4 separate regions of the Homo sapiens genome follow, and all the other regions are reported to be linked to region 3. The links are microRNA targets in miRTarBase. Many come from high-throughput screens and were not tested one by one. Region 3 holds a microRNA gene; each other region holds the end of a gene's coding sequence.
What was found. Region 3 holds the annotated microRNA hsa-miR-130a-3p (CAGUGCAAUGUUAAAAGGGCAU, at 3,066-3,087, opposite strand). A microRNA usually pairs through its seed, bases 2 to 8, with sites in the 3' UTR of a target mRNA and lowers its output. Matches are read on the target gene's strand: a 7mer-m8 pairs with bases 2 to 8, a 7mer-A1 pairs with bases 2 to 7 and ends in A, and an 8mer does both.

Region 1 (7,113 bases), not on the chromosome of region 3:
AGTCAAGTAGCTTGGGTATTTGTGTCACCATCCAGGATGTAACAAAGCCCCTGGGTCTCTTTGCTGAGTGCTCCGTGGTAGAGGCAGTGCTCTGGGCTCCCCTGCCAGCCCTGCCCTTATGAGCAGGCAAAGCATGGTGGACCAGGGTGTTGATGAGGATGAAACGGCCATGCCTGCTATGTGGCATCAGGAGGAGCTGGGAAAGGGAGACTCACTGCATCTGAGCCTCTCGGGGTTATTTTAAAACCTGTTGGTTGGTGTGGTGAAGGGGACCGCTGCCCTCTGCCCTAAACTTGCCCCTGCATGGCTCTCAGGGACAGAGCTCTTGTTAATACGGTATGTTAACTGTGTCTTCCTTTCACCCCCAAACAGGAACAGATTATCAGTCTGGTCAATCAGATCTGCGGCAAAGTGTCTGGTAAAAACGGCAGCATTGAGAACTGTCTCAGTAAACCCACACCAAAAAGAGGTCCCCGCAAGAGAGCGACAGTGGACGTGCCCCCCTCCCGTCTGTCAGCCTCCAGTTCATCCAAAAGTGCTTCGAGCTCATCATGAAGATGCCAACGCCCGTGGTCGATTTATATATATTTTTTTGTAATTATTATATTCTAGTTTGGAGTACTTGCTGTAGGATTCAAGCTGTCTTTGCACTAGCTCTAAAGAAGATTTTCTTCTGGTTTTAGAGAACTAATTTTGTTTTAGCATTAAACTGTTGAACTTTTTTTTGTACTTAGAAAACCTAGATACTGCAGTCAGATTTTGGAAACTGCCGTATAGTCACTGTTTTAAAAACCCCGGAGGGGCTGTATTAATTTGTATTGCCCCATGGCTGACAAAAGCCTTTTTTTTTGGTTTTGATTTTTTTTTTTTTGTAACTGTTGGGGGGAAAAAGGCTTTTTAACCCATTTTTGAAGAGGGTGAAGTTTGGAGAACAAATTTAAAAACCATCAGTCATGTGAGCAGATTTTTTAGAAGGGATAGGAGACACACGCGCACACACACACACACACGAAACTTGAAATGGCTTTGCTTTGGCTGTCGTCTTCTGCCGTGTGCCAGATGAGCTTGTGATCTGGGAAGCCGGGGCACCCCCGTTTTGTTTCTCTGGGCGGTTGTGGCAGCTGAAGGCGGACGTTGTTTCCTAACCATAGGTGGAACGAGGAGACGGGAGCGAGTGGGCTCTCCACCAGCACATCACTATGCATCTGTTCCAGGAAAGAAGAAAAGCGAGCGAGGAAGACGGAAAAGACTGCCTGCCTTGGAGGGGTCACATGAGGGAGACCTGTGCCTGATTTCATTAGGAAATCCATTCTGTTATTTTTTGGTGCTGTTGGCTACTTTATCAAAAAACCCTTCAATAGCATCCTTAAGATTTAAAAAAAAAAAAAAAAAAAAGGAAAAAAAAGTGATGGAAGCCGTAAGTGCTTCTTTGTCATCGACGTGCAATCTTTCTAACATTCCATCTCCATCTCACCGCTTCTTGTTTGACACCTTCACAAGTCAGCATTAATCTTTCTTTTAAAACTTGTTTCATTTATGATCATGTAGAGAGCCACTAGGAGGCCTGCAGTTATTTTTGAATGTGAAAATGCATTTGCGTTCATCTTGTCTATTTTTTCTCTTCATGTTGTAACAAAAAGGAAAAAAGAAAAAAAAATCCCATCCCTTTTGTACATATGCCTGTAAATTGTTTTAAATACTTGAGCCTTTTTCTCGGTGGGGGGTGGGGAGGGGGGTGAGAAGACAAGATGAAGAAAAGCCTTACATTTCAGTTTCTTCATCGGTTGGATTGGATGCTTACAGGGTTTTTCTTGTAACATTTATAAGTGCTGCTTACATCACTGAACAACAACAAAAAAATAATAATGGAGTAGCTGTTGCCCTTCTCCGGTTGTGTGTACAGTATGTGTGGAATAAAAAAGGGAAACTGTTTTCACAAGCTGTTCTTTGTTTCATAATTGGATTCATCAATCCCGTAGCTACCCATATTGCACTGAGCTTGCCAGTGGTGACTGCCAGGAACGTCCTATGATCCACTTTGTTGGTTGTTGTTGCAGAAGACTGAACTGTTTTGGAATATTTAACAATTACAGAAACAGTCAAGTGTTTTCCAATGTGGTTGTCCGGTTTCTATGGCCTTGCTGTGTACTTTCCCTCTTTTTGACAGTAAACTTCTGCCTATGGCTTACAGTTTGACATTTAATTTATTAGCGCTGCTCTGCACCCCTCCCTTGGGAGGGAGACTTCATGTGGTTTATTGCGAGTTTTTTGTTTACTTTTCAGGTTTGTACTACAAGGTTTAATAATAAAAACAAAGTTTTTTGGACATTTGTCTGTCTTGTGGAAGATGACTGAATGGAATGAGCTCTTTCTTTTCTCGTCCACGGGCAGGGGGCAGAGGATTCCCCCCAGCCAGGGAGCAGAGCCACCCCCCACACTGCAGTCCTGCTCCCACCTGCCACTGGGTCCCCTTCAGCCTAACCTAATGGTTTCCATGTGGCCTGCGGCCGTCCCCCTCATTTCCCATCGAGCTGCGCCCCCCTGCTGAGCTTGCTTTCATGATGAGACGACACTGGGTGCATTCAGGGTGGTATGGCTGCAGACAGACAGACCCCCTCATCCCGGCGGGGAGTCTGTCCCCTCTCTCTCATTGGGCTGGAGGAGTGATGGCAGGAACACATCTCCAGGGGACCAGTTTCTTTTCATAAAGAATGGAGGATTGCTTTGGGCTTGTTTCTGTTCTTTTGGGCCCAGGAGTGTGAAAAAGTAGGGGTTGGACTGGCTGGCTACTGGACTAATGATACTTACTTACTTCTGTAATGATCAACGGAAAACCCCAAGCTTTGCCAGAGTGGTTTGGCTACAGTCAGCTCTTCTACAGGAAGTGGCATTTTCCACTTGTGAAACGGTAGGTCATTCCCTGCCTCATGCAGAACTCAGCCCTGTGGAGCCTCCACCACCTGGCCCAGGCCCTGCCCACATGCAACCTCCCGGGGTGGCCCTCAATGACCTGCACGTCCCTTCACTCTAAGGAACCCTGAGTTACAGTGGCCTTAAGGACATGTGTATTTAGAAGCCTTTGTGTACAAACTAGCTCTGTGCGCTCTCAGTTTACCGTCCTCACACTTTATTGTTAGCTGTTCTTTAAGTTTCTCACACATTATTGGCAATTATGTAAAAATCAAGAACCTCTATAAAACAACCTGGCTTTCCAGGTGGAATTCCGCATACAGCCAAAACTGGATTCCAGTGTGGCCAGACAACGCCCATGTCCCAATTTAAGAGTCGCTGTCCTCACCACCATCCGGAGTGGCCTCTCTGTCAGTGTGTGATGTGGCCAGGGCAGTGTCCACCTGAACTTCCTCCTCATCGGACTGAACAACGGGGGACTCCCCACCCTCACTGATGTCCCGGGTGGCCGAGTCGGTGCAGGTGGAGGAAGAAGAAGGTGGCTTGGCTCTTAATTCTGAGGGATTTGGAACCTGGAGGGTAATCTCATTCTGACAGGTACTGGATTCAGGCCCTGCAAAATAACGTAGGGAAGAAAAAGCCCTGTCATAAAAATATTGTGAATCAGAATTGCCGCCAACAGCTGTGGAATGTGCCCGTCATGAAAGGGGGGTGTGGTTTTTGTTCCAGGCACCTGGGGCCTGCAGAACTTGGGAACTGCCCTGGAAGACACTGAGCTGAGCGATGCCAGAGGCAGCCTCAGGCCCTGCGGTGACCCTTCTGTCCCCTAAGGAGTCAGCCACATGTGACACAGATCAAGTGCTCCTAAGGCTGTAATACGCGTGTAATAGAGGCCCAAAGGCAAGTGCTGCCTATCTTTGAGGAGCAGTCCTTGTAACCTTGATAATCTAGATTTCTTTTTTTTTTTTTTACCCTTTGCAGTAATTCAGAGACACCACTGCTGAGAAAGTCGGAATTACTGACCTTCAGCAGTTCTCCAATTTTATGGAACTAAATAGGCTCTTCAAGGAATCAAAATTCTATATGCAGGTGTCACTGTTTCTAAATCTTCCCCTGACTCTGGGTGAGGGTTCACGCTGGTCTCCAGTATTCTGGCCTTCTCAGGATGAGGGCAAATGCACCCAAGCTCCTTCTCTTCCCCAGGATGACACCGTTCTGACAGATTGCCAGGAGAAGCGGGTGAGAAGTTTAGAGGAAGCTGAAACCGTGGTAATGGTAGAACCTTCTACAGATGGCTGAGGTGCTGCTGGGACGACTGAGCTTTGCCTTGACCCAGCCCAAAGAACTGGTCTGAAATTTGAAACGCACCAAGCCCAGGTACAGGTCTGGCACCTCAGCCCATATTTGCTGCATGAATGTGAAACAAAATTTTGTGAAGGGATGAAAGGAACTGAAGTGCAACTAAGTTTACAACACAGGCCAAGAGCTGAACACACACCATGGCTTTGCCCATGGCAGGCACGCCCCTAAATGCCTGTCGCACGAAGAGGGAAGAGTTTCCCGTGAGCCCCGCAGGAGAGTCCGCACCTCCCTGCAAACGCCAGTCCTTAACCACAAGGAGCAGACTCAAATGGATTTCTGGGTGGTAAAGGAGGGAAAACAAACAAGAAAGCTCTCAACTCACCAAAGTTACCGGAGTGGAGCATGTCAAATCTTTGAGAAGAATTCATGACGGAACCACACCACTGTTGCAGCTGCCACACAGCCGTGTGGAACCGTGGGGTTAGGGAGCCAGGAGCTGGCTGTGAGCTTGGGGGTTTATGCGTAAGTGACTGGCAGATGGTTCTCACGTCTCACCTTTGGAGGGGAGTGGCATCGATACTGCCCTGGTTCAGCTAATGCAAGTTTGTCAACCCTACCTAAGGCGGGGGACAGCACAGTGTTCTCTTCTCCTCCAGAGTTCAGGAAGACGTCCAGGGCCTCCTGGTCCGATATGTCCATCAGGTCCATCTGCTCCAGCATGTCCACGTTCACTTCCATGGATGACATGCTGCCTATGGGCTCTGCGGATAGATCAACACGAGAAAGGACACGCTGTCTTTAATATTACTTTAAAAGGTGAACTTCCATTGGCATTAGGCTAACTACATTGCATTTCCTAAGCTTCCTTCAAAATGGAATTTGAAGCAACGTATTAGTAGATGACATATGCCAGTCTGGCACTTTAAATGCATCCTAAATCACCCTTGGCAACTATTATTACCTTTTACACTTCCTTAATCTGTTCATCCCCAGCCCTTTGGGACGCTGAAGACTAATCTCTGCATTAAGTGAGTCCCGGCTGTTTTGAGTAGGACGCTCAGCCTGTCTCAAAGAGGCCAACATTCCTGCAGCAACAGTTAGCGACCTTCCTCCCTGCCAGCCACAGCTCTGCTTCCTGCCTACAGGTGCCCTGAACCTTCCCGGCAGGCGCACTCCTCTAATTGCAAGTGGAGTTTCCACTGGCCTTGGAACATTTCTCGGGCCTAACGGCAGAAGGGGTTTGACCTACATCTGTAAGCTGTAAGAGCTCCCTGCAGTGGAAGCACAGACTAGGAGAAAACAAAACCCAGCCCACCAGCAGACGGCGACCCCATGAAACAGCACATGCCTAGTTGGCCTCTGCCCGGGCACTGAGCACGGGATGCCCCACAGGTCTTTACTCATAGGCAAACGACCTCTATGGTCCAGAAAACCACAAGCCACGTAAGTTATCCTAGCCATGGGGAATGCCTGGCAGAAGCAAATGCAAATTATTTCTGGAAGGACTCTCCCTTAACCTTGGTTTAAACAAAGTCAATCCCAACCCAATCTGGCATTTGTAACACACATGAAATGAGCCACTCCGAGTGAAGGGCAGCAGAAACAAACATCATCCTCGCTGAAGAATATGAGATGGCTGTTCATACACCACAGTCACAGGAAAGGTGAAGTCAAAAACAAGGTGTCAAAAATAAGGACAGACATTTGAAAGCCAAATAATGACTAGGTAGAAGAGACTGAAATCTCAAACTCGGGGCACAGTCACAGCCCAATAGAAAATTAATAAACTAGAAGGCAGGATGAGTAAATCTGCCATAATGCAGCATAGAAGAACAAAGAAAGGAAATACAAGAGAGCATAAAAGGTACGAAAGATGCAGAAGCGTAGCATCTGGTCACATTTCCCCGAAGCCAAGAAGGGGAGATAACTCTATTCAAAGAAGCTGATGAGTTTCCCAAATCGATGAAAGACCTCAGGACCCAGATTTAAAAAGCAAAACATTCCAAGCAAGATCAAAGCAATCTTCACCTACACCAATTGCTTTGAAGTTGAAGAACATCAAAAGACAAAGGCTCTCTAAAAGGCAGCCAGAGAGAGAGGGCAGGCTAAGAAAGAGAAGGAAATAATTAGGATGACAGGCAACTCATGAACAACAATAATAAAAGCCAGAAGACTGCGGAGTAAGTTCAAAGAGGAGAGAGAAATGTCATCTCTAAAATGGTGTAACATTAGGTATCGTTTAAGATCCAGGAGAAAAGCAGAGACCAAGAAGAAACACGTCATTATGAGCCTGCTCTCGCTAGAGGCATAGTGAAGGAAGGGCTGAGTGCAAGAAAGCATGTTAAGCAAAGAGACGTGTGAGTGTGTGAGTTAATGTAAAACCTGGAATGGAACAGTCATAACGAGGAGTCACCAAGGCCAAATTACCCTCCTGAACAAAGACACGGGGGTGGAGAGGAGGGTGCTTAGAGCCACAGCGACGTGAGATTGCGGCTTCATCTGGGAGGAAAGTGAGTCTCATTATCCTCAGGCTCAGAAAATCACTAAAGTTCAGCACTTGAATGAGAGGTAAGAGTAATTCCTATTTTTAGTTGGGGAAAAGTATTATGGTTTAGATGATCCCATGCTTGGCGGCATCACCCTCGCCAACTGAGCCAGCCTGCTCTGCCTCGGACTTGGCCGGGGGTTGAGCCCAGCCGCACAGGGACAGCAGTTCGCTGGGCTGGATCTTCAAGGCTGAGTGGTCAGGGGAATTTGAAGGCACGCTGGTCAGGCTTGTTCTTTTTGGGGGCACGCTTCTGAGGGTTTCCTTTCTGACCTACGGAAGCCTTTCGCCAAGGCCTGTCTTTTAGATCGTGGCTTCTGACTTCAGTTTTGAAAGTTTGTCTGTGCCATCTTCTT
Region 2 (7,118 bases), not on the chromosome of region 3:
CCAGGCTGGTCTCGAACTCCTTGAGCTTGAGCGATCTGCTTGCCTTGACCTCCCAAAGTGCTGGGATTACAGGCGTGAGCCACCATGCCCAATTAAAGTTTTTGTAATTTTCAGCTTTTATTTTAGATCAAGGAGGTACTTGTGCAGGTTTGCTACATGGGTATATTTCGTGATGCTGAGGTTTGGAGTATGAATGATCCCATTCCAGGTAGTGAGCATAGTACCCAGTAGGTCCCCATCTCTCTCTCAACCCCCCTTCTAGTAGTGCCTAGTGTCTGTTGTTGTTCCCCACTATATCCATGTTGTACCCAGTGTTTAGCTCCCAAATTCACTTGTAAGTGAGAACTTGCGATATTTGGTTTTCTGTTTCTGCATTAATTCGTCTAGGGTAATGGCCCCCAGCTACATACGTGTTGTCACAAAGAACATAATTTTGTTCTTTTCTATGGCTGTGGGCAAACTTAAACACAACAAAACTAGATATGTGATATGAGGTTCATAACTGATTTTTATCTAGAAACTATATTTACTTTTGTGTTCTTGTCTTTGTAGGTTTTAAAATCAAAGATGGGAAAATCGGAGAAAATTGCCCTTCCCCATGGCCAGCTTGTTCATGGTATACACTTGTATGAGCAACCAAAGATAAACAGACAGAAAAGCAAATATAACTTGCCACTAACCAAGATCACCTCTGCAAAAAGAAATGAAAACAACTTTTGGCAGGATTCTGTTTCATCTGACAGAATTCAGAAGCAGGAAAAAAAGCCTTTTAAAAATACCGAGAACATTAAAAATTCGCATTTGAAGAAATCAGCATTTCTAACTGAAGTGAGCCAAAAGGAAAATTATGCTGGGGCAAAGTTTAGTGATCCACCTTCTCCTAGTGTTCTTCCAAAGCCTCCTAGTCACTGGATGGGAAGCACTGTTGAAAATTCCAACCAAAACAGGGAGCTGATGGCAGTACACTTAAAAACGCTCCTCAAAGTTCAAACTTAGATTTCAGATTTCAGTATGTGTGTAAAACATAATTTTTCCCATATCCCTGGACTCTTGAGAAAATTGGTACAGAAATGGAAATTTGCCTTGTTGCAACATACAATTGCAAAAGATGAGTTTAAAAAATTACATACAAACAGCTTGTATTATATTTTATATTTTGTAAATACTGTATACCATGTATTATGTGTATATTGTTCATACTTGAGAGGTATATTATAGTTTTGTTATGAAAGTATGTATTTTGCCCTGCCCACATTGCAGGTGTTTTGTATATATACAATGGATAAATTTTAAGTGTGTGCTAAGGCACATGGAAGACCGATTTTATTTGCACAAGGTACTGAGATTTTTTTCAAGAAACAGCTGTCAAATCTCAAGGTGAAGATCTAAATGTGAACAGTTTACTAATGCACTACTGAAGTTTAAATCTGTGGCACAATCAATGTAAGCATGGGGTTTGTTTCTCTAAATTGATTTGTAATCTGAAATTACTGAACAACTCCTATTCCCATTTTTGCTAAACTCAATTTCTGGTTTTGGTATATATCCATTCCAGCTTAATGCCTCTAATTTTAATGCCAACAAAATTGGTTGTAATCAAATTTTAAAATAATAATAATTTGGCCCCCCCTTTTAAAATAGTCTTGACTCTTTGTGTGTGACTGTTTCTCATGTTTGAATGTGTGACTAGGAGATGATTTTGTGTGGTTGGATTTTTTTGACTTCTACTTTACTGGCTGAGTGTGAGCCGCCATGCCTGGCCATAATCTACATTTTCTTACCAGGAGCAGCATTGAGGTTTTTGAGCATAGTACTTGACTACTCTAGAGGCTGAGACGGGAGCATCTCTTGAGCCTGAGAAGTGGAGATTGCAATTGAGCTAGGATCAGGCCACTGCACTCCAGCCTGGGTAACAGACGCTGTCTCAAAAAAAAGGCCAAGAGAAAGTAAGGGAGACAGATTTTGAGTGGGAATGTTAAGCAATCAGGTCAAGTAAAGAAGATCGAATATACAAAGGAACTTCTGTTTGATGTTTTGTGTGAGTCACCATTCCTTCCTTACAAATGCAGATACACCTTCCTCACAAATGGAAGGGAAGCTCATTTAGAAGTTTAGTTTGAAGATGCCCCCAATTTTTAGTCACCAATTTTAGCTTTTGTTAGTAATGTGTTGTAAATATTAATACTAATGACTGACTACAGTGAGTTCTGACATCTCTCCCAAATCAGTTTGTGATTCTAGAAAGGGACACATTAACAGGTTTTAACAACACATTTTTGCACATGGTTATAAAAATTCCTACACAATGTAATATAAGTCCTACCGCCTCAACCACCCTTCTTTCCTTGTCCAACATTTCTCAGCTCTTGTCATTTTGAGCAGTATGTCTGCAGTTTAATGTGTGAGGGCTTATGTGTAACGTATGTTCAGGAAATAGAAGGATAAATGGCAGAGCTGAAAGTTTAGGTGGGATGGGGAGAAAAGACAAATATAACTAAAATACAAGCTATATTCCCCACTCTACAACAACAAATGCCTGAAGAGAGAAAAAGGTAAAGTCTCTTAGGGTGAAGGGACTAATTTTGGTGAGAAAATTTTCTCTTTGGGAATCTGACACCTTAGAAAGTAACAGTGAGTTGAGCTGGGCATGGTGGCTCACGCCTGTAATCCCAGCACCTACGGAGGCTGAGGCGGATGGATCACGAGGTCAGGAGTTCAAGACTATCCTGGCCAAGATGGTAAAACCTTGTCTCTACTAAAAATAGAAAAAAATTAGTCGGGCTTGGTGGCAGGCACCTGTAATCCCAGCTACTCAGGAGGCTGAGGCAGAAAATTGCTTGAACTCGGGAGGCGGAGGTTACAGTAAGTCGAGATCGCGCCACTGCATTCCAGCCTGGGTGACAGAGCAGGACTCCATCTCAAAAAAATGAAAAAAAAAATTGAGTTGAGCCTTAAAAGATAAGTATTTGACACACAAAAAAGGAAAAAAATTGTGAGGTAAAAGTTTGAGCAGATGGTGGTGTAAAAAGATGCACAACGCTGAATCCCAGCACTTTGGGAGGCTGAGGCTGGTGGATCACCTGAGGTCAGGAGTTCGAAACCAGCCTGCCCAACATGGCGAAACCCTGTCTCTACTAAAAATACAAAAAATTAGCTGGGTGTGATGGTGGGTGCCTGTAATTCCAGCTACTTGGGAGGCTGAGGCAGGTGAATCGCTTGAACCCAGGAAGCGGAGGTTGCATTGAGCCAAGATTGTACCACTGCACTCCAGCCTGAGCGATGAGTGATACTGCATGTCAAAAAAAAAAAAAAAAAAAAAAAAAAAAAAAAATGTACAATGTCCAGTAGCTTAAGAGAAATGCAAGAAAGGAAGGGAAGTTTTTAAAAGGTATATTGGGGTAAGAACACGAAGGGCCTTCAGTGTCACGCGGAAGAGCTTCAACTTTATTTTGTAAGCATGGCAGTTCTCAAAGGTTTATGAGTAAGGGAATGGAATTCTTGCTTCAAAAAGAAAACGTAGAAATATGGAGGACAGCTTGATAAGGGAAAGCTTGAAACAGATTACTTAGGTGAGGATATTTCAGTAGCTCAAAAGAGAAAAGGGCCTAGAGGGCATTATCAGAGGTATGGGCTTATTTGGGGGAATGTTTTAGAGCTAGAATTGAGGATTGAGCATCTGAATAGAGGGTAAGGAAAAGACTTGAAATTGAGCAACTTGAAGGATAAATCTACCAATTAGGGGATTGCAGGGGGATCAGAATTATAAAGGAAGGTCATTTTGATTTGGCATGTTGAACTTTGGGGTGCCTCTAGGACATCCATGTGGAAAGGCACAGCAAGTAGATAGAAAATAGGTCAGATCCAGAGGTATGGCTTTGGTAAATAGTGCACAAAGCAGTAATTACAACAGGGAAATGAGAGTGGAATATTTTATCTCTATCCTTTTCTTTTTGTCTCATAAGATTTAATGCTTTTAGGCCAGGCACGGTGGCTCATGCCTGTAATCCCAGCACTTTGGGAGGCCTAGGGGGGCAGATCACTTGAGTCCAGGAGTTCGAGACCAGCCTGGGTGACATAGGGAACCCCGTCTTTACTAAAAATGCAAAAATTAGCCGGGTGTGGTGGCACATGCCTGTGTTCCGAGCTACTTGGGAGGCCGAGGCAGGAGGACCGCTTGAGCCCGGGAGGCAGAGGTTGCAGTGAGCCGAGATAATGCCACTGCACTCCAGCCTGGGCAACGGAGTGAGACTCCCTGTCTAAAAATAATAATAATAATAATGCTTTACCAGTAGTCTTGACCTCATCCTCTCTGCCTCCTATGGACTGTCAACTTCACTGTGATAGTAGTTGAATTATAATTTCCTCATGAAACTTATATAGAGGTTGTTTTTTTTTCCGTACCTGTAAAAGTCTGTGTTAGCAGACAGTTCTAATTTAAATTCTGAATTCTGATAGCAGGGGCCCAGTTGGTGCAAAGGAGGAATAAAGTTTCCTTCCCTTTTCTACAATTTGAAATTGGGTGAAACTGATCTTTTGTAACTCTTTATCTCTTCTTGCAGCTCTCTCATCTCCTAATAACCCTCCTCATCTTATTGCTGGATAAACTATCCTTTGTTTTCGTGGGTGGAAGGCAATTTATATGCAATCAATATCTGCTTCAGGTTGAAGGAATCAAGTATATGTATCCTTGGGTATGAAAGGCTGATAGTCCCATCATACTCCTATATTTAAATTTTTGAAGGACATTGCTAAACTAAATACATTTTAAAATCACAGAATTGCCTTGCTGAGTCTGATCCCTGAGCTAACTCCTCCAAGTTGTTTTCTCATTGTTGTACTTCTTTCCTTCTGAATCTAGAAATCTCCCGGAAACTGTTGCATAAGTTTTCAAATGGGGAAAGAAAGTATGCCTGTGTTGTGAGATGAGATGGTGTAGGAGACAGAATTGTGTAAACACAAATAATGTAATTCAGGAACTACTTGTTTTGTTAACTTGAATTATAAAAATACCAAATTCAATAACAATTTAAGATGTATAAAAGGTGTTGCATTTAGTGAGGGTCCACTGTTGAGATTTTAGAATTCATTTTCTAGAGCAGGGTTTATAATAATGTGGGCTTAGTGTAGAACTGGCTACACAAATTTTAAATTCCCTCATTAAAGGAATAGCTTATCATAGATTATGTGGCATTAATCATAGTTTCTGAATTTAGTAATGGTAAAAAGGGACAAAGTGGGACAATTGATAGAAGCAACCTACAAAATTTATGAAAGTCAGATACACATTTATCAAAGGAGGCTACATGTTCTATTCAAGCTGCATTTAATTAGAAGAGGTCAGATAATCTTGAACATTTAACAATACTTTAAAAGACAAAATGACATTAAACAATGATAAAAATACCTCATTTCTCTAGTTATTCACACAATATTTTTATGAATGTGGAAGAAAAGATTCAGGAAAGTTAAGTAATTTTTCTTAGTCTAATACAATTAGCATTCAGAAAAATATGTGTTATGTCTGGTTGTAAAGACACTAGATGATAATCACACTCCTCCAAAGCTGGTTATATATACATGGCTGCTCCTACTAAATTATTACAGATAGTTCTCTTATTCCAAGATTAGAGTTTGTTAATCTGACATTGTCAAATGCAAATTACAAATGTGTTCTTGGCATCTTGGCATTTTAGGATCTTGGGCAAGGGATGGCAAGTAGAAATGTTTTCTTTTTTTGGAGACAGAGTCTCACTCTGTCATCCAAGCTGGAGTGCAGTGGTGCAATCTTGGCTCACTGCAACCTCCACCTCCTGGGTTCAAGTGATTCTGCCTCAGCTTCCCAAGTAGCTGGGACTACAGGTGCACGCCGCCCTGTTTGGCTAACTTTGATAGTTTTAGTAAACACAGGGTTTCGCCATGTTGGCCAGGCTGGTCTCGAACTCCTGGCCTCAAGTGATCTGCCTGTCTCAGCCTCCCAAGGTGCTGGGATTACAGGCATAAGCCACCCCACTGGGCCTTTTCTATTTGAGACAGGGTTTTGCTCTGTCATGCAGGTTGGAGTGCAATGAGTGGTGCGATCACAGTTCATTGCAACCTCTGCCTCCTGGTTTCAAGTGATGTTCCCACCTCAGCCTCCTGAGTAGTTGGGACTACAGGGACGTGGACATGTGGTTTCACTGTGTTGTCCAGGCTGGTCTCAAACTCCTGAGCTCAAGTGATCCACTGGCCTCGGCCTCGCAAAGTGTTGGTATTACAGGAGTGAGCCACCAAGCCCAGCCGAAAACGTTTTCCCTTTTTGTTTTCAGGGTTTTTAAGTGATTTCTTCCTTTTTGTAGCCATTTTGATGATTTTTGGTTATTTCCAATTGCAAATGTTTGATTTAAATTGAACTCACAATTGCCTACTAACAGTAAGATTTTTAAATACAAGATCTTTATTATTTCACTTTACTTGACAACATGGAATCAGAGGGCTTTTTGGTCCCATCAAACCTTTGGATAAGTTACAATTTGAGGGGATTTTCTAACTATAAAACAAGGGCTTTCAACAATCCCTTCCAAAGTTGAGCAAAATTAACCTTACTCTTCAAATGACTAGGCATTTAATGCTCTCAAATTTTAGAAAGGATTACTATCAAAGACTGGAAATGTCCCTTTTCTACCAGACTTTCAAGGCTCTTAGAGTCACTGTTCATTCAGTCCAGTCTCCTTAACCATCCAGGTCTATTTCTTAAGTTCCTGTAATCATGTGATGCCTGAGACCAGATCCTGAATTTCAAAAATAAGAAAACAGAATTGTTTATGAAAGGTATTCAACCAAGGTTTTCTGGCTGTACTTTAGCTAATTAGAATACCTCATGTATGAATATTCCAGGTTTTTTTTGAAATACTTTGTTAAATTCAAAATACTTGGGGGATAGATGGAAATATATGTGGCAAAGCAGGTGTAATTAACTGCTAACTGTAGAATCTAGGTAGTGGGTATATGGATGTTCCACTTTAAAATTCAGCTACATTTAACATTTTTTTATACTGAAGATTTTTATAATAAAGTGTTAAAGAAAATAGAGTTAGGGAAAATTAAGGCTGCTTTACTGGTTCACTCCAACATTATATATA
Region 3 (7,118 bases):
TCAAAAAAAAAAAAAAAAAAAAAAAAAAAAAGCTCAAAATCGCAACATCAATGCCACCATATGACCCAAGGGACATTTTATTGGCAGTGGTATGAAATCCCTACTGTTGTTGGGTGCCCAACAGTTACAGGGGAGACCATATACATCATAAAGATCATTTTTTGGTAAGCTATAATATTCTTTCCAGATTCATTCATTAATATTCCAAATATTTATAAAGCATCTATTACTTGCCAGGCATTGTGTTAAGCACTAGATGTTAAGCACATGGTGAAGATAAGGCAGCTGTGACCTGACTTCCTGGAGCTTTCTGTCCAGTAGGAGATGCAATAACCAGGAAATCCCAGTAGAAGATGATAATAAGGGATCTAAGCAGGGACGTGGAGGAAGCTTGGGAGCTCATAGGAAAGGAACTCAGCTTAGATGTAAGGAGTCAAGGAAGGCTTCACAAAAGCGATGACTACGATGGCATTTGAAAGATAAGAAGTTAGGTAGGCAAAGGCAAAAGTGATGGAAGTATTTCAGACAGAGTATGTGTCAAGTAACTTAAGTTTAGTTAATTGAAGGAAATAAAAGTTGCTTGTGGGCTGAAAGCAGTGGCTCACGCCTTAATTCCAGCACTTTAGGAAGCCAAGGCTGGAGGCTTGCTTGAGGCCAAACTTTGAGGTTAGCCTGGGCAATATAGCAAGATCTTGTCTCAAAAAAAAAAAAGCCATACCTGCACCTGTAGTCTCGACTACTCAGGAGGCTGAGCAGGAGGATCACTTGAGCCCAGGAGGCTGAGGTTGCAGTGAGCCATGATCACGCCACTGCACTCCAGCCTGGGCTGGAGCAAAACTTTGTCTCCTTAAAAAGTGGGTGAGAGGACATGAAAGGAAAGAGAAGCAGGAGCCATAAACTATTTAGGGAATCTAGATTTAATCCCAATGGTATTAGGGAAATATGGGAAAATTATTGTTTTTTAGAGTGGAGTGGCAGTATCAAATGGCTATTTGTGCCCAGACAAGAGGCTCAAATAGAAGTTTTAATAGACTGGAGAAAGTAAGGAACATATGGTAGGGTGCGGTGGCTCACACCCGTAATCCCAGCACTTTGGGAGGCTGAGGTGGGCGATCACTTGAGGCCAAGAGTTTCAGACCAGCTTGGACAACAAAAATTAGCCAGGCATGGTGGTGCACGCCTGTAATCCCAGCTACTCAGGAGGTTGAGGCAGGAGAATCACTTGAACCTGGTAGGCAGAGGTTGCAGTGGGCCGAGATCGCGCCACTGCACTCCAGCCTGGGCGACAGTGAGATTCTGTCTTAAAAAAAAAAAAAAAAGGGAAATAAAGCTAACTGTACTATCTCAAATACTGTTGTTGTGATCAGAATGGAGAGGCTGTCTGGGCAGGAGAAAGGAGGACTAGAACTGGAAGGCACAGAAGTAAAAGGGCAAGGGAAAAAGGCAAGCCATGGAGAGATGTCCAACATCCCTCAACTAAGGCCTCAGGGGAGTCTGACCCATCTTTCAGTTTCTACATGCCTCATGATGCCAAGATCCCTCTCAGGGTCCAGCAGAGGACCTCAAAACCCTATTCCTCTTGGACCCATTTCTTGCACCAAAGTTTAGGGAAGATTTCTCAAGTCCCAAACTCTGCTGTTGAAAACCAGGCACAAACTAGCTGCCTTCTTCACTTGATCTTAGCCAAAAGACCAGGAATACTAGCTGCCTTCTTAAAGAAGCTCCCCAAATATTCCTCTCATTCAATTTATTTTAACAAGTTTTAATTAAGCCTACTAGGCACTGTGGGAGACAGAGAAGTAAATGGCTGAGTCATTGCTCTCAAATTTTTCTTTCTTTTTTTTTTTTTTTGAGATGGAGTCTCGCTCTGTTGCCCAGGCTGGAGTGCAGTGGCGCAATCTCGGCTCACTTCAACTTCTGCCTCCAAGATTCATTCAAGAGTCTCCTGCCTCAGCCACCCAAGTAGCTGAGACTACAGGCGTGCATTACCACGCCTGGCTAATTTTTGTATTTTTAGTAGAGACGAGGTTTCACCATGTTGGCCAGGCTGGTCTTGAACCCCTGACCTCAGGTGATCCGCCCGCCTCGGCCTCCCAAAGTGTTGGGATTACAGGCGTGAGCCACCGCACCCGGCCTCAATTTCCTTGTAATTGGTCCTGGGAGAATCATTCTGTGGGTTGATTCAAGGGATCCTATTAATCTTTAAGATTAAGTCATGGGCAACGCTGTCCAAATCTTGGATGCCCAGACAGGTGTGCCCTCAAGCAGCATTACCATCAAACACCCCGTGACCAAGAGGGAGTGGTGCTGAGAAAGGTAAGTGGATTCAGGGAAGGAGTGAGGTCTTTCCATGCCTCATGAGCCAGGGAAGGAGCTGTAGGTATGGGATGCCAGCAGCACACAGGTCCTTTTCTTTGGGGAGCAATCCTCTCGAGTTAACCCCCTTTCCTTTCTGGTGCATTCCTTTTTTTCTCAAGGAGGCCTACTCTGTACCTAATAGTGATTCTCCTAATCTTTTTCCACTCACTCTCCATTCCGGGCTGAGTCTGGGAATGCTTATCCTTCTTAGCCTAAGGAGTTGCCACCACTTCTGGTCCTTAAAGGTTTGAGGCTTTGGAAGATATCCTCATACAACCAGCAGATGGCATCAAAACCTTCCACCCCTCAGCTCAGGAAATCTCCCAGTTTGAAGAACCTATTCAGATCTCTCCAGATGGGTCTACAAAAAGATGAGTGAGCTGTCAAGACTTAACACAGGGTTGTATCTAGGCTTTGCAACCTAAGAGCTACACAATCTTAGCCAAACTGTTTAAACCTTTCTGACCCTCAGTTTTTCATCCATAAAATGGGGCTGTTACCTCCCAGAAGTTATTAGGTTTCACAGTAACGGAGGCAGTGTCTATCACAAGCACTGCATACAGAAGTAGTTCCATAAATGAGAGCTATTAGTATAACTAACAAGTGAGGCTACCCAGATTCCCACCAGGGTAGCTGACTGGTGCCCAGATGGGAGAGGAATTGCAATGCTGAGGAGGCAGCCAGCGCTGGGTAGCACTACACGGCCAATGCCCTTTTAACATTGCACTGCTAGTGACAGGTGCAGACAGTAGCACAATGTGAAAAGAGCTCTGGCCAGCAGCAGAGGCATGCCGGCCCTGCCTCCTCACTCCTTCTCCCAGTCCCTGGCCCACTCAGCTCACGGGCTCCCTCTGCCCCTTCTTTGCTTCAATACAGCTTTTTTCCCTTTTATTCCATTCTTAGTGTTCATTCTATTTTTTCACCACTCTTCCTTTTGCCGCCTTCTTCACCAACCCCCTGACCCCCAGCACAGAGACCACCTTTTTCTTGGAGGTTTTGGCATGGGAGGACAGGACCCACTAAAGCAGCTGCAGGGATACTTCGGGCTTGATGCTCAGTCCTCAAAGAAAACGGCTATTAGCAATCCCCAAAGTCTGGAGGTCACTCGTATGAGGCTGTGTTCATCTGGATTTGCATTTCCGCTAGCTTACCTTCTAGAGAGGAGCTTGCTGCCCAAGACTACAGAACCCTCTACTCTTCTCTAAGTTTCCATCTCCTTTTAAATTTAGATAAAGCAGAGCTCTAGGCCTCAAGGCAACACTCTCAGATGACCTTCCAGGACCAGAGAGGTGGGAGCCTGTAGTCACAGCTCCCCACGCAGTAGAGAGAAGCTTCCAGGCGGGGAGGTGAAAGCTGCTGGTGAAGCCCCACCCCTGCATCTCCTTTTGGAGGTCCTGAAAGCACTTTGCAGATTCAGCATTAAAATGGTGAGGGTGATTCGCTCACAGTTACTGAGAGTTAGGGATAGGCTTTCACTGGCAGTGGGATTCACATCTGAGTTATTTCCTGTCTTATCCAGGGACCCTTGGTTGGGGAGTCTTCAAGCTCATCCTAGCACTTCCCCATCCTATCCAACCCTAAGGGGGCTTAAATACAGGACAAACAGTCCCCGGAAGATTAACACCCAAAGCCAGAAAGCTGCCCTGGAAGGACACCTGGATATCTGGAGGCTCAGACCCAGGCAGGCTCTATTGTGGCACATTCCAGCTAGGGCCACAGCCCCGGAGCCCAGCTCCAGTTCTGACCCAGTGAACTTTGGGCAGCCCAGAGAAACAGAGGCTGGAGGGTGATTCCTCCAGTGCCCCGATCAACGAAGGGGAGATGCCTTCTTCCCTAATCCACAGCCACCGTAAGGAATAGAGGACAGAATTCCAGTTGGGAGCTCTTCCTCTGGGCTTCCCTCTAGCCTCGTCCCACCCCCTCAGGAAGCAGGAGACGTTCCCTCCCGCTCTCCCCGGCAGAGTTTGTTCCCGTAATCTGCAAACATGGGGCCCTGCCCTACAGTTTTAATGGGCGGAAACCAAGACCCCTCGAGGGTCAGTGACCTCTCTGCTCTGGGGTTGGGCAAACCAGGCCCAGCTGGGAACTGGATCACACCAACAGGGGGCAGAGGGGCAAAGATAAGGCTGCACAGCAAGCTTCAGGGAGGCCAGGGGAAGATTCTTCCCCAAGAAGTTTCCAGGTCTCTCCTTAGGGAGTGCAGGGAGAAAGGGCCAAGAGCCCCTCAGCTCTCACACACCCAACTCATTCCTGAGGAGCAGGCCCAGCGACTCACCAGCCAGCAGGACCCCTCCCCCACCTTGGGCCCAGGAGCCAGCCCCCAGCTCCTTCCAGAAGCGAGTGTAGAGACCGAGGAGGAAATGGGGGAGGGGAGGCCCCGGCTCAAGTTCTCTCCTCTCCCCCTCCTCATTGGCCACCATCTTCCGGCCCCTGCCCCCAGAGCAGCAGGGGATGGGGCCCAGCCTGTGAAAGGGAGAGAAAGGGCAGGTGGGGGGTTAGCTGGAGCAGCAGGGGCAGGGGGCTGGCCCCAACTGTCTCCTCCCACCCCCTCCTCGCAGCCATGGCGACGGGAGGAGGAGACCAGGAGGGTCCTGAAAGCCATGTTCTGTGAATGGGATGAGAGAGGCAGCTGGGAAGTGGGGGGTGAGGGGCGCTCTCCTTCAACACCCAACTGTGCTCCCCCCGAACACACACACCTCGAGGCTGGACCACACAGGCGCACGTACACACCACACACACACACACACACACACACAAACTCTCAGCCATACTTGCTGCACAACTCAGCCCTCATTACACACCCAAACAACAAGAACTGGAGTGTGAGCGCACGCCCCCCACACACACACATCCCCGCACCCCTCAACACCCCACAACTATCAGCTCGAAAACCAGCCTCACACCCCCACACCGCCCCTGGCTCACCCTACAACTTCTGGAGGTGCAGAACTCCCTGCCCTGCTCCAGCCCTTCGGCCCCCGGTCCCCCTCGGAACACTCCACGCCCTCGCACACAACCCAGGTGGAGACAGATGGCCCAGCTCGGCCGTGCCCAGCGGAGCCCCCCATCCCTACCCCACCACGCCCCCCACTGGAAAATGACAGTGAGGCCACCTCAGAAAGACACGCCTGGTGCTTCCCAGTTACAGTGTTTCCAAAGGAAAAAATAGAAAAGATGCCCACGAGTGGAGAATGAGGAGGGAAAAAGGAAGACGAGAGAAAGAGCCCAGACCGTCCCCCTCCCTTCCCCAAGAGAGAATAAAACCGAAAATCGGTGTCGTTACCCTTCGGGAAGCTCTCGATACCTACACATTGCTCTTCGTTAGGATCCTCTGCCTGCCACCTCCTTCTTCCCGGGCTCTTTCTCTGCCCTTCCCTCCCTCTTGGCTCCCCTCCCTGGCCTCGCTCCCCCTCGCTCACGCCCTCTCGCACCCCGCCAGCCCCTCTCCCGGGCCGGGCTTGGATCCCCAGCGGCCGCCCCGCCACCCGCCGGCCGGGACCGAGGTTGCGAGGCCGGTGGGCCGCGGAGACCCTCTCCTCTGCCGATCTCGCTCTTCCCCCCTCGCCCCCTTTCTCCTTCCACACTCCCTGCCGTCCATCTTGAATACTTGGGATTCTTGAATGGAGTGAGCAGGATCCGCTCCCCCAGGCTCCCATTGGCTGTGGGTTAACCCTTTTGAAACGAGATCCTCCCTCCCATTGGCTGCCAGGCTCCCCTCTTCTCCCCCAACCCCCATCCCCTCCGCCTCCCAACAGTCCGCGAGGTCAGGGCGCTCCCGGAGCCCCCTCCCCTGGCTTCTCACCTCAACAACCCCCGCACCAGGACGCCCCTCTCCCCGCTCTTTCCGTCACGCCCCGCACAGGGCTGCAGGTGAAGGCAGATCCAGTTCCCGCCAAATGCGGCCCCAAGGTGGGGCTGGCAGAAACCCTGTTCCCAGATGCCCCTCGTGCTGGATTTGGAGACCTTGGAAGATACAAGGGGTGCAATTTCCTGCCCGTCTCCAACCCCTCCTTGACCAGAAGTACTTCTGCAACAGGGGATCCACTCAGCCTTTCAGCCTCACCCAAGGCGGTGGGAGAGCGTTCCTGAACGCCCGCGCTTCTTGGGCTGGCCAGGAAGAGGGCAGCTCTAGAAAGAAGATCTGGGGCTCTTCACCGAAGCTAATTCCCCGAGTGCCGCAGGGCAGGCCTGACCCGATCAGGAATGTGCAGCATCTGGAGCTCCGCTCCGTCAAAAACATCCCCTCAGACCAGCCCTGCCCCGCCTGGGCCAACGTGCTGTGCGCCCACAAGGGGCTCTGAGGTGGGGGAGCCCAGAGAGGAAGGCGGCAGCAAGGACGAGGGCGATATGTCAGGCCTTGGAGTAAGGTCCGGGGTTTTAGGCCTAGATCTGCCATTAAGATGCAGGGCGAGGCTGGGCGCGGTGGCTAACGCCTATAATCCAAGCACTTTGAGAGGCTGAGGTGGGAGGATTGCTTGAGCCCAGGAGTTCCAGACCACCCTGGGCAACACACTGAGACTCTATCTCTACGAAAAATAAAAAAATTAGCTGGGCGTCGTGGTGTGGCCTATGGTCCCAGCTACTAGGGAGGCTGAGATGGGAGGATCGCTTAAGCCTAGGAGTTCCAGGTTGCAGTGAGCTATGATCGGGCTCGGTGGCTCATGCCTGTAATCCTAGCATTCTGGGAGGCCGAGGCGGGTGGATCACCTGAGTTCAGGAGTTAAAGACCAGCCTGGCCAACATGGTGAAAACCCGTCTCT
Region 4 (7,118 bases), not on the chromosome of region 3:
TCAGACATTACTTACTTGAGGCAGAACATTTGTTTGCTTCACAAGGAAAGGTCACTTATTAAATAAAATGGCATGATTTCTGGAATACACTAATGCTCCTTATCTTAATTGACTTTGGGAATGAGCCTTTACATGAGTTTTTTACCTCCCTGGATCATTTTGAAAAGGTGTAAAATGCTTCCAGAAACGATTTTGTAGAACTAAACAGATTTCATATGTTGGAGAAAAGCCTGACAAGAGGAGGATTGGGTTTTACCAGATTTTTCTATTATAAGAAACTTGCATGATTTAAATATTTTCAGTATGTCCTTTGAGGAAAAAAGCAAACACAGTGCTACCCAAATCATTACTAAATGTCTCTCATTTGGTTTCTCATGTTTCTCTCTCTTTTTCTTTTCTTTGCAGTATTGACTTGAAGCTGAAAGAAAAGCCTTAGTTGGCCATGCTGGAAGAAGAGGATGCTTTTCTGGTTCATGGTTCTGTTGAAACATATCTACCTGAAAGAGACAGGGCTGATGTTACCTTTTTCCACTTTGCACTACCTGGTGCCATTCTAAATTTCTAAGGGGAAAAATAGAAAGTTTGTTTACTCTTAAGATATTTTATGAAATTGTGTGTACTTTCCTATTTTGCCAATTATGTGCCTCAAAGATTTTAGTTGAGCCTTAGCAAGAAAGTAGGACCTTCCATTTCAATACTTCATTAACACGGTGTAGTGATACTTTGTCCCTTAGACTGGTGTTTACCAGTAAGATACCTTTAATCCACTGTTAAGTATGAGTGGATTTGTTTCCATAGATTAGCTGGATTTCCTTTTGGTGATTGCATTAGGTTTAAAGTACACAGGTCTCAACTCTCCCCAGGAAAGTTTCCCCTGTTTGACTCCACCTTTAAAATCCTAAGCCTGACTAGGACAGCCACAAACCACACAAGGTGTAAAACCATCATCAGCTAAGTGCCCGTTTTGTTCTTGTTTACCAGAATCTCCTTTAACTTCTCAAAGGGAAGCCGGGCTTTCTAATCCACGTCAACTTTATTTTAGTTGTCAAATTGGGCATTATATTTTATGTAAATTGGTCTTTTAACATCATTTTCCTGATGAATGTTGGTGACCACCACATTGTGAAATTTAAGAATCCGTGTTGCATGTTTGGTAGCTCTCTGAGTTTCAGGCCATAAACTCAGCTCCAGAGGTTACCTTTTAAGTGCCAAGAACTCAAGTGCAAGGTGGCCTACTCAAAAATCATTTGGTAGCATTCAGTTATTCATGAATTCCTCTCTCGCATGCATTATAAAAAGTGATCTGCTTTAAAACACCGTAATCTGATCATAGGCTTAAAATTAAATATGAGTATTACTTTCATGTACAAAATATTTCCTTTATAGTCTTCATATGCCCTTTAAAATGCCAACAAGATTTCAAGTCTGTAGGCCTCTAGTGAGGTGGGGTGGCAAACCACAGCTAAGTCTCGCTCACCACTGCAAGCTAAGAATGGTTTTTACATTTTGGGTTGGAAAAATTTTTTTTGAATATTTCATGACACATGAAAATTATTCAAATGTTAGTGCCGATAAATAAAGTGGTACTGAAACACAGCCACACAAACTTGTTTTTGTACTGTCTACAGCTACTTTCACACTACAGCCGCAGAGCTGAGCAGTTCAGCAGACCGTATGTCCCACAATGCCTAAAACATTGACTATGTTTACAGAAAAAGTTTGCTGACCCCTGCTCTAGCAAACGCATCCTTTCCTACTCCACCCCAATTTGTATTTAGATAGTTTCTCTAACAGAACGGACAAATGAGGCTGCAAACTAATTTATTTTTGTCAAAAATCAATGTTTTGACATCCACAGACAGTGAAATAAAAGAAATGGCTTGCTGAAAAACATGAGGAGTCCTAGCCACAAAATCACTGCTTAGGTTGCAATTGCCAAAATGAAGCCTTCTTAGAAGCACTTCTTTAGTATATACAGGTGTTGGCTGAAGTCCGTGCCTCACTCTGGGAACCATTCTTAGTCTCCAGTGTCTCCTATTACAAAGAAGCTGGCAGAAATAAAAATGAAGGGGTGAGAGCGGTTCCACCCTAGTCTCATGGTGGAAAATTCATTGGGGAGAGCTGTCCAGGATATTTGGAGTCCTGGGTAGAAGGAGCTTGTAACTACTTTAAAGTCGACATCTTTGCACAGGTGATTGAGTTTCTCTGACCTCATTGCTTCACCTCTGTCTCCTCCCGTCCTTCCGCACGTGCCCACACACACGCAGTTCAGCCCTCTTTCCTCCATAAGCCTCCATCGTTTTCTCTTTTCTCCTCTTGATCCTTTCAAGCGAGTATCTTGTTGAATTGTATGTTCTGTTGGATCTCCTCCTTCATAACATCTGGCTTGTTGGACAGAAAAACCCTACAGCCCACCCCCTCCCACAGCCCACCTCCACTTTTGAAAGCCCAAATTACACCTCTCCCAGAACACAGTGTTGACGTAAATACAGTTACCCAATATTCCTGTTTGTTCACCTATTTGCTACTTTCACTCAGTAGCATCCCATTTTGTAAAATGAATTCCATGGTCACCCTGTCACAGGAAGTAATGAAAAATCCAGTGTTCAGTGTAGTGGTGCAAACCTGAGGGCATAGAGCTGTTCATAGAGGGCTCTTGTTATAGCCAAACAGACACAGCAACAATCTCACCATTTATATATATATTTTTAACTTGTCCAGCTCATCTATGGAAAACTACTCAGGTGGTATGCTGTTTGAAGCCTCATCTTCCTACATGAAAATTATGGGCATTTGTCCCAATGATTTTGTTTCAGCTGTTCTGTAGGCTGCATAACCACTCTGATATTTAGGTATCTGCTATTTTATTATCTTAAAAGACAAATTAATTTAATTGCATGTGCTAGGGAAAAGCTACCATGTACATTCACCCCAAGTAAATAGAATCCTAGATGAATCCTAGAAAAATAATCCCTAAGCAGATAGGTAGACAGAGGTAAACATTCACATGATTTAGCTCTCTAGCTCTTGCACTCTGAACATTCTTGCTTTGGTTCTGACTTCTGGGAACTGCTTTGCATTTCTCCTATAGATCTGTAGTTAAGGGAACCAAGGGGTCATTGGGGCAAAAGCATTGTTTCTCAAAGCTCCTTGATTAAGAGAAAGAACAGAAATTTGCACAGAAGATAGTGTCAAGGAGTGAGAAAGTTTGTTTGAGGGCAGTAGCTCAGTGTGGAAGAAAATCCTGAAGTTTCTGTTGAAGCCATACAATGTTCTATGGGGTTACTCTCTAAGACATTCTCTGAGGTGTGTGAGGAAGTCACTACTCCTAGCCTTTGTTAAGATGTAATTTTAAATATTCAGTTATGGTACTATGTTTGCAACTCTCGTCTTATCACAATGCCTCAGTAGTTTGTTCCCTTAGAAACATTTAGATGTGCACAAATTAATCTTTTATATATCTAAAGGTTTTTCTATCATGCATTGGATTGCTCAGAATAAAGTGTCTGTTAGACTTCGTTTTGGTAAATAAATTCTCCATAATGTAGATTAATAATATAAAAGTCTTTAATGACACAATATATCTATATAGCCTCACTGTATAATTCAGAAATAAAAATTGATTCTGCATGTGATGGTTTTCTTTCTTTGAGTCAGCAAGAATTTTTCTCTGGCTTCACTTTGCAGCAGTTTTATCTCAACATCAATCTAGCTTGGCACTTGGTACTGGAGGACTGTATACATTTTGGTTTTTCTGTACACCCAAACTTTATTCTCTCTTCATTTTTGCCTTTCCTATCTCAGAGTTCAATACACCGAGCTTTCAAACTGTTGTTTACTCTGTGGATAAGCGATTTCTTACTTTGGAAACATCTCCATGTTTCATGGTTACTTGATTTTTGTCTTTTCCTCTCTCTTCCCCTTGCCTTTTTATGGCATATATTTATTTTTAAATTAAAATGTTTAAATATCATTTTATTTTTAGTTGGGGTTTTTTCCCCATTTTCACAACCTTCAGGCAAAACCAGAGTTGAGAATTACCACTGTGCTATTTTTTTAACTTAATAAACACATGTGTACCTCTGAGAAAGTTGTTGGACTAGCCAAAGGAGAAATTGCTCTACAAGAAGTGAGACGTTGCATGTTCTCATGATCTAAAAATGAGTTCTGGTAGATATTGTCCTCTACCCAAGAAAGGGAAGAAACAGAAGAAAAGGCTGACAAGTAATTGCAGGCAAAGGAAGGACATTCAACTACAAGACGTACTGCTACATTCATTCTGCTCTCGTACCTAACTATGGTGGTGGAAACTGGAGGTGGGCTAGGTGTCCAGCACTAGGGAAAGGGCTGGGTAAATCGTGCTGAATACACCTTTTAGTATACCACAGCTGTGAGAAGCAACATACTATATGTTCATAAAGCAACACTTAAATCATAGGGTAGAGCGGAAAAAGAACAAACTCGATGTTTATAGCACAGTGCCACTTACATAACTGTTAAACATACACACACAAAACTACGTATTATCCAAAATCCATGTGTATTTAAGGACTTAACACACTCATTTGGGTAAGGGTAGGGCATGGAGATCAGTGATAAAGTTGGGAGCCTAATTAAAAATCAAAATCATAAGGGGCCTTTTATAAGCTGAAGTTAAAAATAAATAAAATGAAGACAACTTCAGTCGTGGAAGCCAAGACTTTCAGTCATAGATTACAGAAAAGCTGTGTTGGGGCACTGTGGATCCCTGAGGAGCCATTCCCTTCTACAGCTTCTCTTGTGTGTGCAGTGTCCCTGTGCTGGCTGTGTCCATGTGCTGCAGCGTGCCAGAAGCCCGCCCTGGGTTGCATCATCCTGTGCAGTCATGGAACTTTTAATTCAGAGCTGGTGCCTTTTGACACATCAATCCTCACACAGCTGTGGGCTTTACGGAGCAAGCAGATTGCCTCACGAGCCTGATTTTCCTAGATAGTTTCATTCACATCCATTCAAAATAACCCTCTTTAACTAGACAAAATTATTTCTTCTCAAGATATAACCATTCCAATGATACTTAGACATTAGACACCAATAACTGCTACCCATGATCTCTCTAGCCTTACCTCTAGTGAGAGACCTATAGCCCTTAACACTGGATCACGCTTTCCTTGTGAAACTTCCTCCTTAGACCAGTGAGCTGAATTACCCTGCTTTCCCACAGTATTCAATATCTATTGCTGTATTAACAAATTACAGTTGACTCTCATTTTTCACAGTAGTTATGTCCTATAAAGTCAACAAGAACACTGAGTTAGTGAACACTGATCCATTGCTCCTCGGGCAACCGGTCAATACATAAGTTTGTTCTATGTGTTTTTCAGTTTAAAGATATTGTATTTAATGTATATTGTTCACTTGATAACACTGAATTCACAGCCAACAGCCTGAACATAACTCACGCCTGAATGAAGCTTCTGCAACAGGTATTTTCTCCATAAGGCACATCACAGCCTCCTTGCATTAGGAATACCAAATAGCCCCCACTAGCTTGGGGGCCATTTTAAACAGTAAAATCAACAAAAAGCGCAACAATGCAAAAAACAAAAACACAAATACAGGAAACTACATGGACTGTGAAGAGGATACTTGTTGCTGAGAGCTGAAACAAGAAGACAGAGCCTTACCTTGTGCGACTTCAGCAGGGAGCATGTATCTCAGGCAATTCAAATTTTTCACTGCTCTGCAGATGCCGTAAATGACTGTGAAAGTGCTGGAGTACTGATTTTAGGGATACAAATAAATTTTAGCGAGTAAGCAAATTTGCAAGTGCAAAATCTGTGAATAATGAAGATCTACTGTATTCCAAAACTTACGGGCTTAAAACCACACATTTATGATCTCAGTTTCTGTGGGTCAGAAATCCAGACACACCTTAGCTGGGCCCTCCGCTTCAGGGCCTCTCACAGGTGCAATCAAGGAGTTGGTCCAGGGTTTCTAACAAGACACAATCAAAGTTCATCTGGGACAGAATCTGCTTCCAAGCTCACCCTCATGATCATCAGCAGGATTCAGTTTCTCTGTGATTGCTGGACCAAGCACCTCATTCCTTGCCGGCTGTTAGCTAAAGGCTGCTCTCAGTTCTTTGCCTCATGGGTCCCTCCAGCACAGCAGCTTTTTTTTATTGAAACCAATGAGAAAGACTGCTAGGAACTTACAATATTTTGCAATCTATCACAGAATTGACATCCTCTCACTGTTGCTCTATTCTGTGGGTTAGAAGTAAGTCACAGGCACAGTGGCTCATTCTTCTAATCTCAGCAATTTGGGAGGCTGAGGCAAGTGGATAGCTTGAGCTCAGGAGCTTGAAACCAGCCTGGGAAACATGGCAAGACCCTGTCTCCACAAAAAATATAAAAATTAGCCAGGTGAGATGGCACTTGCCTGTGGTCCCAGCTACTCAGGAGGCTGAGGTAGGAGAATCTCTTGAGCCTGGGAGGTCAAGGCTGCAGTGAGCCATGATTGCCCCACTGCACTCCAGCCTGGGTGACAGAGCAAGACCCTATCTCCAAAAAGTAAAAATTCAAAAAAAAAAAAAAAAATTAAAAGAAGTCAGTCACTAGATCTAGCCACACTCAAAAGGAGAGTAGGACACAGGGTGTAACTATCAGGAGATAGGGATGATTGAAGGCTGCCTGGAAACTGTGCCCACCATACCCCTGGTGCCTTCTGCAAGTTCCTCTTTGAGCTCCTCTGTTTTCTCAAGGTGTTTCTCAATGTTCAGACGGAGGCTTTTCTGCTATTTCTCCATGACTTCAACTAGCACAACTCAGATTATTCAAAGCCTGGTTTCAATCTCAGACTACAAACTCCCACCATCATTTCTCTGTGCCCCCTCCAATCCCTGAGGAGGGGGTTAGTAAATTCTCACTTCCCCGAGCTGATGAGACAATTTCTGTACTACCTCATTGTCTTTGAAATCACACAAACTGGGATTCAGCCTACTGGAAAGGGTCACCTCCTTCCCATTAATCCCAGCAGAAGACCCAGGGCTGCATGTCACTGGACCGGCTTAGTTGCCTGTCTATGAGCCAACCACTGTAACTGAAGGGGTGGATTATGCAGGCTTAGTTGGGCCTGGG

Region 1: miRTarBase lists JARID2 as a target of hsa-miR-130a-3p. Seed matches in the 3' UTR shown: 8mer at 646-653 and 7mer-m8 at 1,989-1,995.
Region 2: the mRNA of PNRC1 is a reported target of hsa-miR-130a-3p. Seed matches in the 3' UTR shown: 7mer-A1 at 1,408-1,414.
Region 4: the mRNA of PRUNE2 is a reported target of hsa-miR-130a-3p. Seed matches in the 3' UTR shown: 8mer at 534-541 and 7mer-m8 at 3,028-3,034.

Annotation. Positions count from the first base shown.
Region 1 is chr6:15,519,697-15,526,809 of GRCh38, forward strand. JARID2 (jumonji and AT-rich interaction domain containing 2) reads left to right here. Exons shown (of 18, transcript NM_004973.4): 18 at 373-2,346. The coding sequence ends at 555. It overlaps DTNBP1 (dystrobrevin binding protein 1), which reads right to left. Exons shown (of 10, transcript NM_032122.5): 9 at 4,830-4,973; 10 at 3,111-3,523. The coding sequence ends at 3,279. It overlaps LOC105374947 (a long non-coding RNA gene), which reads left to right and starts at 6,638. Exons shown (of 4, transcript XR_007059475.1): 1 at 6,638-7,113. RefSeq lists a silencer at 3,338-3,524.
Region 2 is chr6:89,083,201-89,090,318 of GRCh38, forward strand. PNRC1 (proline rich nuclear receptor coactivator 1) reads left to right here. Exons shown (of 2, transcript NM_006813.3): 2 at 553-1,960. The coding sequence ends at 996. Among named protein-coding and RNA genes, the nearest start is that of PNRC1, 6.0 kb to the left of the region's middle. RefSeq lists enhancers at 1,307-1,834, 1,835-2,361.
Region 3 is chr11:57,637,221-57,644,338 of GRCh38, reverse strand. MIR130A (microRNA 130a) reads right to left here and starts at 3,141; the gene lies at 3,053-3,141. MIR130AHG (MIR130A host gene) reads right to left here and starts at 5,963. Exons shown (of 2, transcript NR_186232.1): 1 at 5,667-5,963. RefSeq lists enhancers at 570-1,069, 4,344-4,923 and silencers at 5,770-5,829, 5,850-6,039.
Region 4 is chr9:76,607,888-76,615,005 of GRCh38, reverse strand. PRUNE2 (prune homolog 2 with BCH domain) reads left to right here. Exons shown (of 19, transcript NM_015225.3): 19 at 406-3,630. The coding sequence ends at 436. LOC105376095 (a long non-coding RNA gene) reads right to left here. Exons shown (of 12, transcript XR_007061586.1): 4 at 5,853-5,973; 5 at 5,664-5,757. Among named protein-coding and RNA genes, the nearest start is that of GCNT1, 150 kb to the right of the region's middle.